Linked DNA regions of Homo sapiens. The protein of the gene in region 2 purifies or fractionates together with the protein of the main gene of each other region. This does not show direct contact. Each region holds a gene or a part of one and is shown on either strand. Other genes may lie near its edges. The genes, in order: ZC3H14, WSB2 and NKTR.

Region 1 (3,657 bases), on a different chromosome or scaffold from region 2:
GTTGTTTCAAGGATGCTACCAACAACAACATCTGTTTTAACCTGCTGTCTTTTCACTCACTGTCATATGGCAGCACAGATTTTATAGCTTGCTTTCTTTGTTTTTTTTTTTTTTGAGATAGAGTCTCTCTGTCCCCCAGGCTGGAGTGCAATGGAGCCATCTCAGCTCACTGCAACTTCTGCCTTCCAGGTTGAAAGCCATTCTTCTGCCTCAGTCTCCCAAGTAGCTGGGATTACAGGCATGCACCATCACACCTGGCTAATTTTGTAGTTTAAGTAGAGACGGGGTTTTACCATGTTGGTCAGGCTAATCTCCAACTCCTGACCTCAAGTGATCCACCAACCTCGGCCTCCCAAAGTTCTGGGATTACAGGTGTGAGCCACCGTGCCTGGCCTATAGCTTTCAATAAAAGGTGAATTTGCCTCTTAAAATTTGAACAGAAAGTTTTAATAGTTTACAAAGTCGGTGTCAGCCAGTGAAGACTAGGGGCATGACCTTCGTATGACTTAATGTTTTTAAAAGAAAGATAAAGTTTCTTTGTAAGGTATTATTGTAATAATCACATTTCTTTGTAAAGTATTATATTGTTCCTGAGTATCTAGCTACTTTGCTTTCCAGCTAGGCTTCTCTTGGGTATTCTCTTAATCTTTTATTTGTACTGGGTTCTTGTGTATATATTATAGTCTGCTGTGTGTAATTTATTATAGGAAAAGGGTAAGACACATTTACTTTGCGGGGATGACACAAAAAACCTGTAAAAATTAGAGAAACTTCCAGTCATCTCACATTTTCTTTGGAACCGATTATTCTTGTATCTTAGAACTAAAATGACTTATACTGTTTTGTTTTTAGAAAGGGTATCCCTCCTGTTGCCCAGGCTGGAGTGCATTGGCACAGTCATGGCTCACTGCAGCCTCCACCTCCCAGGCTCAAGTGATTCTCCCACCTCAGCCTCCTGAGTAGTTGGTTACTACAGGTGCACACCACCATGCCTGGCTAATTTTTTGTATTTTTTGTAGAGATGGGGTTTCACCATGTTGCCCAGGCTGGTCTGAAACTCCTGAGCTCAAGTGATCTGCCCGCCTCGGCCTCCCAAAGTGCTGGGGTTACAGGCATGAGCCACCACATCCTATTTAAAGCTTAAATAGGACTTTTACTATTTTTAAAGTAGCATAGAAAACTGTTTGTATCAGGCATAGTCATAATTGCTCTTTGATGCTGCTCCTATCTGGGCTGCATGACTACATTTGTGTGCCTTGTTCTCCTGTAGTGAGGACAGAATGTGGGTCACTGGAACAGTAAGTACTCATAGAACTAGCTGCTGCTGCTATTACGACTGGTTGCCTGTTTTGCATTTTTTCCGTTTAATCATCAGACTCTAAGGAAGACATTATTTTCTCTTTGTATAGATGAGGAAACAGAATTCCAAAAAGTTAGCTAACATTTGCACAGAGTGTCTGGCTGAGCAACTAAGTGGCAGAGTCAGATTTTAACTGACCTCTGGCAAGAGGACTAGAGGAATACAGTTGAAGTGATACTTGCTTTCATGAACATGAATGTGAACCATAATACATAATACCCATGATGCTATTTTGTGGGGAGTTTAAGGTGTCTCAGTCCAGAAATTAGCAGCTGATTATTGCCTGTAGCTGTAATTTTACTTATTCAGTGTTATTTAATAAATTGCCAGCATTACAATTTCGATGAAGGCAGATTTTTGGCTTACTGAAACAGGATAAAAATCTGGCAACAGGGGTCCCACTTTGCCCTGTCATAGTAATCGAAGCTGTGATTGGATGTGGCACAGGGAGTGGAGTGGATGGGTGTGCACTTGCTTTCCAGGCTGCTGCTCCCCGTCTGTCCCTTATTGCATTTATCATCTTCAGCCCAGTCAGTCTTGCTGTTAGGGGAACTGCCCAGTCTCTGTAAGTGATGGCATTTGTGACCCCATTGTAGGTAAAAATGTTTTCCCCTTTTTAGACATTGCTGGCTGAGCGCGGTGGCTCATGCCTATAATCCCAGCACTTTGGGAGGCCGAGGTGGGTGGATCGCTTAAGTCCTGGAGTTCAAGACCAGCCTGGGCAACGTGGGGAAACCCTGTAGCCAGGCGTGGTGGCACGTGCTACTTGGTAGGGGCTGAGGTGGGAGTATCACTTGAGCCTGGGAGGCAGAGGTTGCAGTGAGCCGAGATTACACCACTGGCACACCACTGTACTCCATCCTGGGTGACAGAGCAGGACCCTGTCGTAAAAAAAAAAAAAAAAAAAAAAAGTAAAAGACATTGCTGAGTTTCGCACCTGGACTTACAGCTCAGCAGGTGGGAATCCTTTTGTATTTGGGCCACTCATCATCTTGCTGGCGTGTGAGGATTCACATCTCCTTATCACCTTACCTGTTTTCAGTTTTTATTTAATTTTATTAGTTCCCCACTTGACGTCCTTCTCTATTTTTAATTCAGCTATGAATTAGTATTGAGAATTAGAATTTTTGGTGAAAAATTTGGCCGTAGTTGCAGAGTCACTGTCCTCTTTCCTTTTCACAGTGAGAACTGTTGTCTTCTTCCTGGCAACCTTTTATAGGATTCTATGGCCAGTGTTAATCCCATAATTTGAGCTCACTTATTTTATATGACTGTACATTTAACAGAAGATTCTAAGACAGGTTTGAGGGAAATATGTTAAAGGTGCTGTGTACTGAATTGATCATAATGAATGAAATACTTTTATTTCCTTTCCCTTTGTAGCTGAGATGAGTGAACTGAGTGTGGCACAGAAACCAGAAAAACTTTTGGAGCGCTGCAAGTACTGGCCTGCTTGTAAAAATGGGGATGAGTGTGCCTACCATCACCCCATCTCACCCTGCAAGTGAGTACCATCCCCCCATCTCACCCTGCAAGTGAGTACCATCCCCCCATCTCACCCTGCAAGTACCATCCCCCATCTCACCTGGCAAGTACCATCCCATCTCACCCAGCAAGTACCATCCCCCACATCTCAACCCTCAAGTGAGTACCATCCCATCTCACCCTGCAAGTACCATCCCATTTCACCCTGCAAGTACCATCCCCCATCTCACCCTGCAAGTACCATCTCCCCATCTCACCCTGTAACTACCATCCCATCTCACCCTGCAAGTGAGTACCATCCCTGCATTTCACCCTGCAAGTACCATCTCATCTCACCCTGCAAGTACCACCCCCTCATCTCACCCTGCAAGTATCATCCCCCATCTAGCCCTGTAAGTGCGAGTACCATCCCCCATCTTACCCTGCAAGTACCATCACCCACTTCACCCTGCAAGTACCATCCCCCACCTCAGCCTGCAAGTACCATCCCCCACCTCAGCCTGCAAGTACCATCCCCTATCTCACCCTGCAAGTACCATCCCCATCTCACCCTGCAAGTATCATCCCCCACCTCACCCTGCAAGTACCATCCCCCATCTCACCCTGCAATTGAGTACCATCCCCCATCTCACCCTGCAAGTACCATCCCCCATCTCACCCTGCAAGTGAGTACCATCCCCCATCTCACCTTGCAAGTACCATCCCCCATCTCACCCTGCAAGTACCATCCCCCATCTCACCCTGCAAGTATCATCTCACCCTGCAAGTGAGTACCATCCCCCCATCTCATCCTGCAAGTACCATCCCCCATC
Region 2 (2,653 bases):
GCCACCTACTGAATTATAGATGTTACCTGTAAAGTGGTCTTTTAGCCCTAAATGGTTTCCCATATATTATGCATCATCTCAATTTTATTCTCCCTTGTGAACTTGGCCCATTAGGTGGCATGACTTACAGATCTTTAATTACATTTAGGTTAAATATTCAGAGAAAATGGGACACCGTTATTAGCAAAATCGATCATTTGAGTTTTATATAATCTTGAATTGCCTTAAAGCTTTCCTCATAGGCAAGAAAATTCTAGATGGTTTCTTTCCTTAAAAAGCTCCATGGTATACTCAGCAGAAAGCACCACCCATCTGTTCAGCTAACAAATACATACCCTGTGGCAATGACTCCACCATGTGGAAAAAATGTGCAGCAAAGCCCATTGGTCATAGGAGCAAATGCAATGGGAGTTTTCAGTTCCAGGGCCCAGATCCTGAGGAGTCTGGATGGGGAGAGAGAACATCTGGATATTAGCTGACCCAGGGCCAGACCAAGAGGGCCTTGCTGCCATTACTTGCAAGCACTTGTTCTGAGGCCATGTAAAGAGAGTTCTCTTCGTTACCTGTCATCTGCCACCGTGGCAAGGTACAAGCCTTCTGGAGAGAAGCACACAGATCTCAGTGAGCTAATGTGGACGTCACTGTCATCCATGGCGGGGTCAACCTGGGTGTGGCTGGGAAGGAAAGAAACAGGATGGCAGGCCTGGAGTGATGGCTGCTCTCCACCCTCCATCATCACCCTAGGCAGGAAGCCAAACTGCCCTGGCTACAAAAGGGCTCAAGATGCATTGTGTGCCCCTCGTGGAAAAGCTTGGGATTTGCACACTGGGAAAAAAAAGGGTATCTCAGAAGGCTCCAGGTGTCCTGTGGATGAAGGGTTACTAACACTTCCTTGTGCTAATTTGCTTATGCAAAGTAGGTCAGCCCTCACTTTAATGCCACAGTAGAAACTGCAAGTCTTTTTTAGGCTAAGATACATGATAATTATAGGACTGCCTATTATTTGCTTCATAAAACAACAGACACAAAAGGAAAAAGGAGACCAAGTTTGTGAGAACATGAAACTCATTTTGGAAAGCACAGTTTCGATAAGAGGCTCTTTCTGAACTTGTTACTACAGTTATTAGTAAATGGAAATAAAGAGTCATATTGAGGCTTCATAATGCTGATTCCGAAGAAGTACACACAGCCACCTGAATCAGGAGACTGGAAGACACTCAAAGCTACTTGAGAGGGCTTAATTGACAAGGCATCACTAAGAAGCAATGAACCAGGCCAGGCGCAGTGGCTCATGCCTATAATAGCAGTTTGGGAGACTGAGGCGGTGGATCACCTGAGGTCAGGAGTTTGAGACTAGCCTGGCCAACATGGTGAAACCCCATCTCTAATAAAAATACAAAAATTAGCCAGGCCTGGTGGCGCACGCTTGTAGTCCTAGCTACTCGGGAGGCTCAGGCAGCAGAATCGCTTGAACCCGGGAGGTGGAGGTTGCAGTGATCCAAGATTGCGCCACTGCACTCCAGCCTGGGTGACAGAGCGAGACTCCGTCTCAAAAGAGACCCACTGTGCCTTTTTATCCAGCTTGTCCCCTCCCATGTCCCAGATTCTAAAAGAGACATGTCTAATCCCAGGCAGGTTCCTCATCAGTCCCCCCACAAAAAAGTCATAGCAGGGATTCAGTCCTTACTGGAGTGACCTCAGCCTTTCGCCGGTGTAGGGGTCCCACATAATCACATTGGTATCGTAAGAAGCCGTGACAAGCAGGGCAGAGTCGGGGGAGAAGTCACAAGAGACAACACTGCTTTGATGGCCCTCTAGCTTCCGAATTAACGTGTAGGACCTCATGCTCCATAGAAAGACCTGTGGAAAGTAAGAAGTGCCTGGTTAGGGCAGAAGCAAAGTGCTTAGGACTCAAACGGAGGGAGGGAAAGGTACCACCACCAAATCTGCAGGCCCTGCAGCCAGGGCTGATTCTCTATCCCTTTTCTACAGCTCTTCCAGAACGTGTGGTGTAGGTTTAAATAAGGCAACTGGTCTGGATTCTTGAGGATTTAAAACAATGGGCATGCTCAAGGAGCTCACTATAAGAGAGAATAAACCAGATCAGCCTTAGGAAGACCCCTGCTGAAACGCATGTGCAGAGACTTCTGAGTCTGCTTCTGAGTCCTGTTTGCCAATAGGGTAGTCGTATGTGCTGATGAAGACCTGAGCCAAGTGCTATCTTATTCCACTTAAAAATAAATGTCAGCGGCCAGGCACGATGGCTCATGCCTGTAATCTCAGCACTTTGGGTGGCTGAGGTGGGTGGATCACATGAGGCCAGGAGTTCAAGACCAGCTTGGTCAACATGGCAAAACCCCATCTCTACTGAAAATACAAAAATTAGCCAGGCATGGTGGTGCACGCCTGTAAGCCCAGCTATTTGGGAGGTTGAGGCAGAAGAATCACTTGAGCCTGGTAGGTGGAGGTTGCAGTGACCTGAGATCACGTCACTGCACTCCAGCTTGGGCGAAAGAGTAAGACTGTCTCAAATTTTTTTTAAAGGGTCAGAAGTGAAATCTGCGGCCACCCCACAAAGTAGTGGCAGGCTGCCAAGGCATTTTACACCCCCCACCTTGTGTATGGAACCATGGAAATCTGTCCCAAGACTGGG
Region 3 (3,657 bases), on a different chromosome or scaffold from region 2:
AGGGGTCCTGTTCCAATTCGGAAAACAATAGGGGAAAGCCACAAAAGCACAAACATGGGTCAAAGGAAAATCTTAAAAGAGAACACACCAAAAAAGTGAAAGAGAAATTGAAAGGGAAAAAAGACAAAAAGCATAAGGCTCCAAAACGAAAGCAAGCATTTCACTGGCAGCCTCCACTAGAATTTGGTGAAGAGGAGGAGGAGGAGATTGATGACAAGCAAGTTACTCAGGAATCAAAAGAGAAAAAAGTTTCTGAAAACAATGAAACCATAAAAGATAATATTCTAAAAACTGAGAAATCCAGTGAAGAGGACCTTTCAGGTAAACATGATACAGTGACTGTTTCATCAGATCTTGATCAGTTTACTAAAGATGATAGTAAACTCAGTATTTCTCCCACAGCTTTAAATACTGAGGAAAATGTGGCCTGTTTACAAAACATTCAGCACGTTGAAGAAAGTGTTCCCAATGGAGTGGAAGATGTGCTTCAAACAGATGACAACATGGAGATCTGCACTCCTGATAGGAGTTCCCCAGCAAAAGTAGAGGAGACTTCCCCTCTAGGAAATGCACGGCTTGATACCCCAGATATAAACATTGTTTTGAAGCAGGATATGGCAACGGAACATCCTCAAGCAGAGGTAGTAAAACAGGAAAGCAGCATGTCCGAAAGTAAAGTGTTGGGTGAAGTGGGGAAACAGGACAGCAGCTCTGCTAGCTTGGCTAGTGCTGGAGAAAGTACCGGGAAGAAGGAGGTGGCTGAGAAGAGCCAGATCAACCTCATTGATAAGAAATGGAAGCCCCTGCAAGGTGTGGGGAACCTGGCAGCACCTAATGCTGCCACATCCAGTGCTGTGGAAGTTAAGGTGTTGACCACTGTGCCTGAAATGAAACCACAAGGCTTGAGAATAGAAATTAAAAGCAAAAATAAAGTTCGGCCTGGGTCTCTCTTTGATGAAGTAAGAAAGACAGCACGCTTAAACCGTAGACCAAGAAATCAGGAGAGTTCAAGTGATGAGCAGACGCCTAGTCGGGATGATGATAGCCAGTCCAGGAGTCCAAGTAGATCTCGAAGTAAATCTGAAACCAAATCAAGACACAGAACAAGGTCTGTCTCCTATAGTCACTCAAGAAGTCGATCGAGAAGTTCCACATCATCTTATCGGTGAGCAATATTCTCTTTCCTTTCTTCTCCCAAGGAGAGTCTGTTATTGTTTAGCTTGGAAGAATATCAGAATTAGGGACAGAATCACTATTTCCAAATATCTGAAAGGAATAAGAAGTCTTGTTTTGTGTGATTCAGAGAGTAGATTGAAAACTTAGGGAGAGGGAATTTCAGGAGGAGAAATTTGGGCTGGGTTTACAAAACTATTACTATCAGTTTAAAGCTCTCTGTCACTAGAAATGAGTTCCCATGATAGGTGGTAAATTCTCCATCTTTAAAGGTGTGAGGCTGCTTCTTGCCAGTCAAGTGATGCCTTAGAAGGGAATCCTGAATTGACAGAATATATAGAATTTGCAGATCATTAATCTAACCTTCCATTTTACACATGTGGAAGTTGAGGGCCAGAGAGACAAAGTTACCTGCCCAAGACATGCATCTTAGTTTAGATGGGGCATAGGGATAAAAATGATCATCTTTAGATTTTTGTTGTTGTTTGAAAAGCAATAAAAGAATTTAAAACACCTTTTTCTCATCTTTGTCACTCTGCACCTTCATGAAAAGGTTTTTTGTTATTGTTATAAATTGCATCATAACTTGTCAGCATAGAATGGATAACAGAGATGAGAATTAAAAACTAAAAATATTTGTGATGGTAATAGGAAGTTAGTAAGCAGTTGTGTTGCATTCTTTTTCTTGTAAATATTTTATGGTTTTACCTGTTTCTTAATTATTCATATCCCTTATTTTATTGTGCTTGATATTCATCATTTGAACTGAAAATACCATAAGAATCTTTGACGTTTGTTTCCTTTCTAGTTATTCATCAGTCTTTCTTCCCTTGCCTACCCAGACTTCCTAAAAAAGGAACCGCCACGTGCCATCTATACTCGGTCTCCCATTTTCTCCTCGGCTGTGTGCTTGCTGCCTTCTGTGCCTTCCCCTCCCCGCATCTCTTAGTTTACTGACTAAGACTTTCAGGTACTTCTGATGGCCAGTACCATGGCGTATTTTCAGCCTCACTTCTGGAGCCCTCTGCTAGCTCTCCTTTCTCCCACTCAGGCCATTTCGTCCCTGTGTTCTAGGCTTCTCTTCTTCCTCATGGCCTTTTCTCTCTGAGTTCCTGTTGATAGATGCAGTTGCCTATTGAGCGACTCCAGCTTCCTGTCTGCTTATGATCTGCCTTAACCATTTACACAGAGACAGCTCTGAGCTATTCGTGATGCTGGCCACTCTTCTCATTTACCTTCCCACCTCTGCCTTGGAGTGGGTGGTATTTCAGTTTGTAATGAAGACAGCAAGGCGTAGAAAGGCTAAGGGACTTGTTCTAGGCTATGCAGCTAACAGGTAGTAGACTGAGATGGATAAGCCTGGGTGCTGCCCTGCCTCCCTGTTTTGGTTACCTGCCTGGGCCTGACACCCCCATTAGGCTGTGAACTCCTTGAAGTCAGGAACTGTGTGTTACTCATCGTTCAGTCACCTCACAGGGTCTGGCTTTATTATTTTTGGTTGAATAAATGACTACAATCTTATTAGAACATAACGTATTCATTTTCTTGCAGATATACTGGAAGCAGGTCATGTCTTCCAAAACATAGTGCATACTGAATAAAACCTATGGTGATATTACATAATGTCACCTGTACACAGAGGTATTGTTCTGTTCCTGAATGACAGGCCTAAAGTAGGGGAGAAGGGTGGGGAGCCAAGTGAATGCAGAGGGGCAGAATTGTACTGCTTACATTTTTGCTTGTTTTATTAAGTATTAGACATAAAAAATGATAAAAGTATAAAAAGCTATATAATACATACTCATGTACCTGCCATCTAGCTTAAAAAATAGATCTTTGGGCCGGGTGTGGTGGCTCACACCTGTAATCCCAGTACTTTGGGAGGCCGAGGTGGGCAGATCACAAGGTCAGGAGTTCAACACCAGCCTAACCAACATGGTGAAACCCTGTCTCTACTAAAAATACAAAAATTAGCCGGGCGTGGTAGTGCGTGTCTGTAATCCCAGCTACTCAGGAGGCTGAGGCAGGAGAATTGCTTGAACCTGGGAAGCAGAGGTTGCAGTGAGCCAAGATCGCGCCACTGCACTCCAGCCTGGGCGACAGAGCAAGACTCCTCAAAAAAAAAAAAAAAATAGAGCTTTGATGTACCAGTGCCACCCCTAGGTGCATGCCTATGTCCCAAAGTTAACCATTATTCTAAACTTTGGTTATAATTTTGTTGTCTTTCTTTATAGCTTTACCCCAAGTGTTTCTATCTTTATACAATGTTATGTTTGCACTTTTTATTAAGTAAAATACTTTTATATATATAGATGTTCTACATTTGCCTTCTTCATTCAACATTGTGTTCTAGAGATATATCCTTGCTGAAACATGTAGCTGTAGTTCATTTTCTTCAGAATATTTCGTTATATATCTCTACCTTAATGTTTTTTTAACCCATTCTACCATTAGTGGAGATTTGGTTTATTTTCTTCTCAGTGT

What was found.
Region 1: the proteins of WSB2 (region 2) and ZC3H14 purify together in Homo sapiens (affinity purification with mass spectrometry; 2 studies listed by BioGRID and IntAct, with this or other methods). This does not show direct contact.
Region 3: the proteins of WSB2 (region 2) and NKTR purify together in Homo sapiens (affinity purification with mass spectrometry; 2 studies listed by BioGRID and IntAct, with this or other methods). This does not show direct contact.

Annotation. Positions count from the first base shown.
Region 1 is NC_000014.9:88,604,500-88,608,156, forward strand, and holds part of ZC3H14 (zinc finger CCCH domain-containing protein 14), read left to right. Parts: intron 1-2,743; coding exon 2,744-2,864; intron 2,865-3,657. UniProt on the Homo sapiens protein: RNA-binding protein involved in the biogenesis of circular RNAs (circRNAs), which are produced by back-splicing circularization of pre-mRNAs.
Region 2 is NC_000012.12:118,034,651-118,037,303, forward strand, and holds part of WSB2 (WD repeat and SOCS box-containing protein 2), read right to left. Parts: intron 1,861-2,653; coding exon 1,688-1,860; intron 675-1,687; coding exon 564-674; intron 444-563; coding exon 336-443; intron 1-335. UniProt on the Homo sapiens protein: May be a substrate-recognition component of a SCF-like ECS (Elongin-Cullin-SOCS-box protein) E3 ubiquitin ligase complex which mediates the ubiquitination and subsequent proteasomal degradation of target proteins.
Region 3 is NC_000003.12:42,638,586-42,642,242, forward strand, and holds part of NKTR (NK-tumor recognition protein), read left to right. Parts: coding exon 1-1,165; intron 1,166-3,657. UniProt on the Homo sapiens protein: PPIase that catalyzes the cis-trans isomerization of proline imidic peptide bonds in oligopeptides and may therefore assist protein folding. Component of a putative tumor-recognition complex involved in the function of NK cells.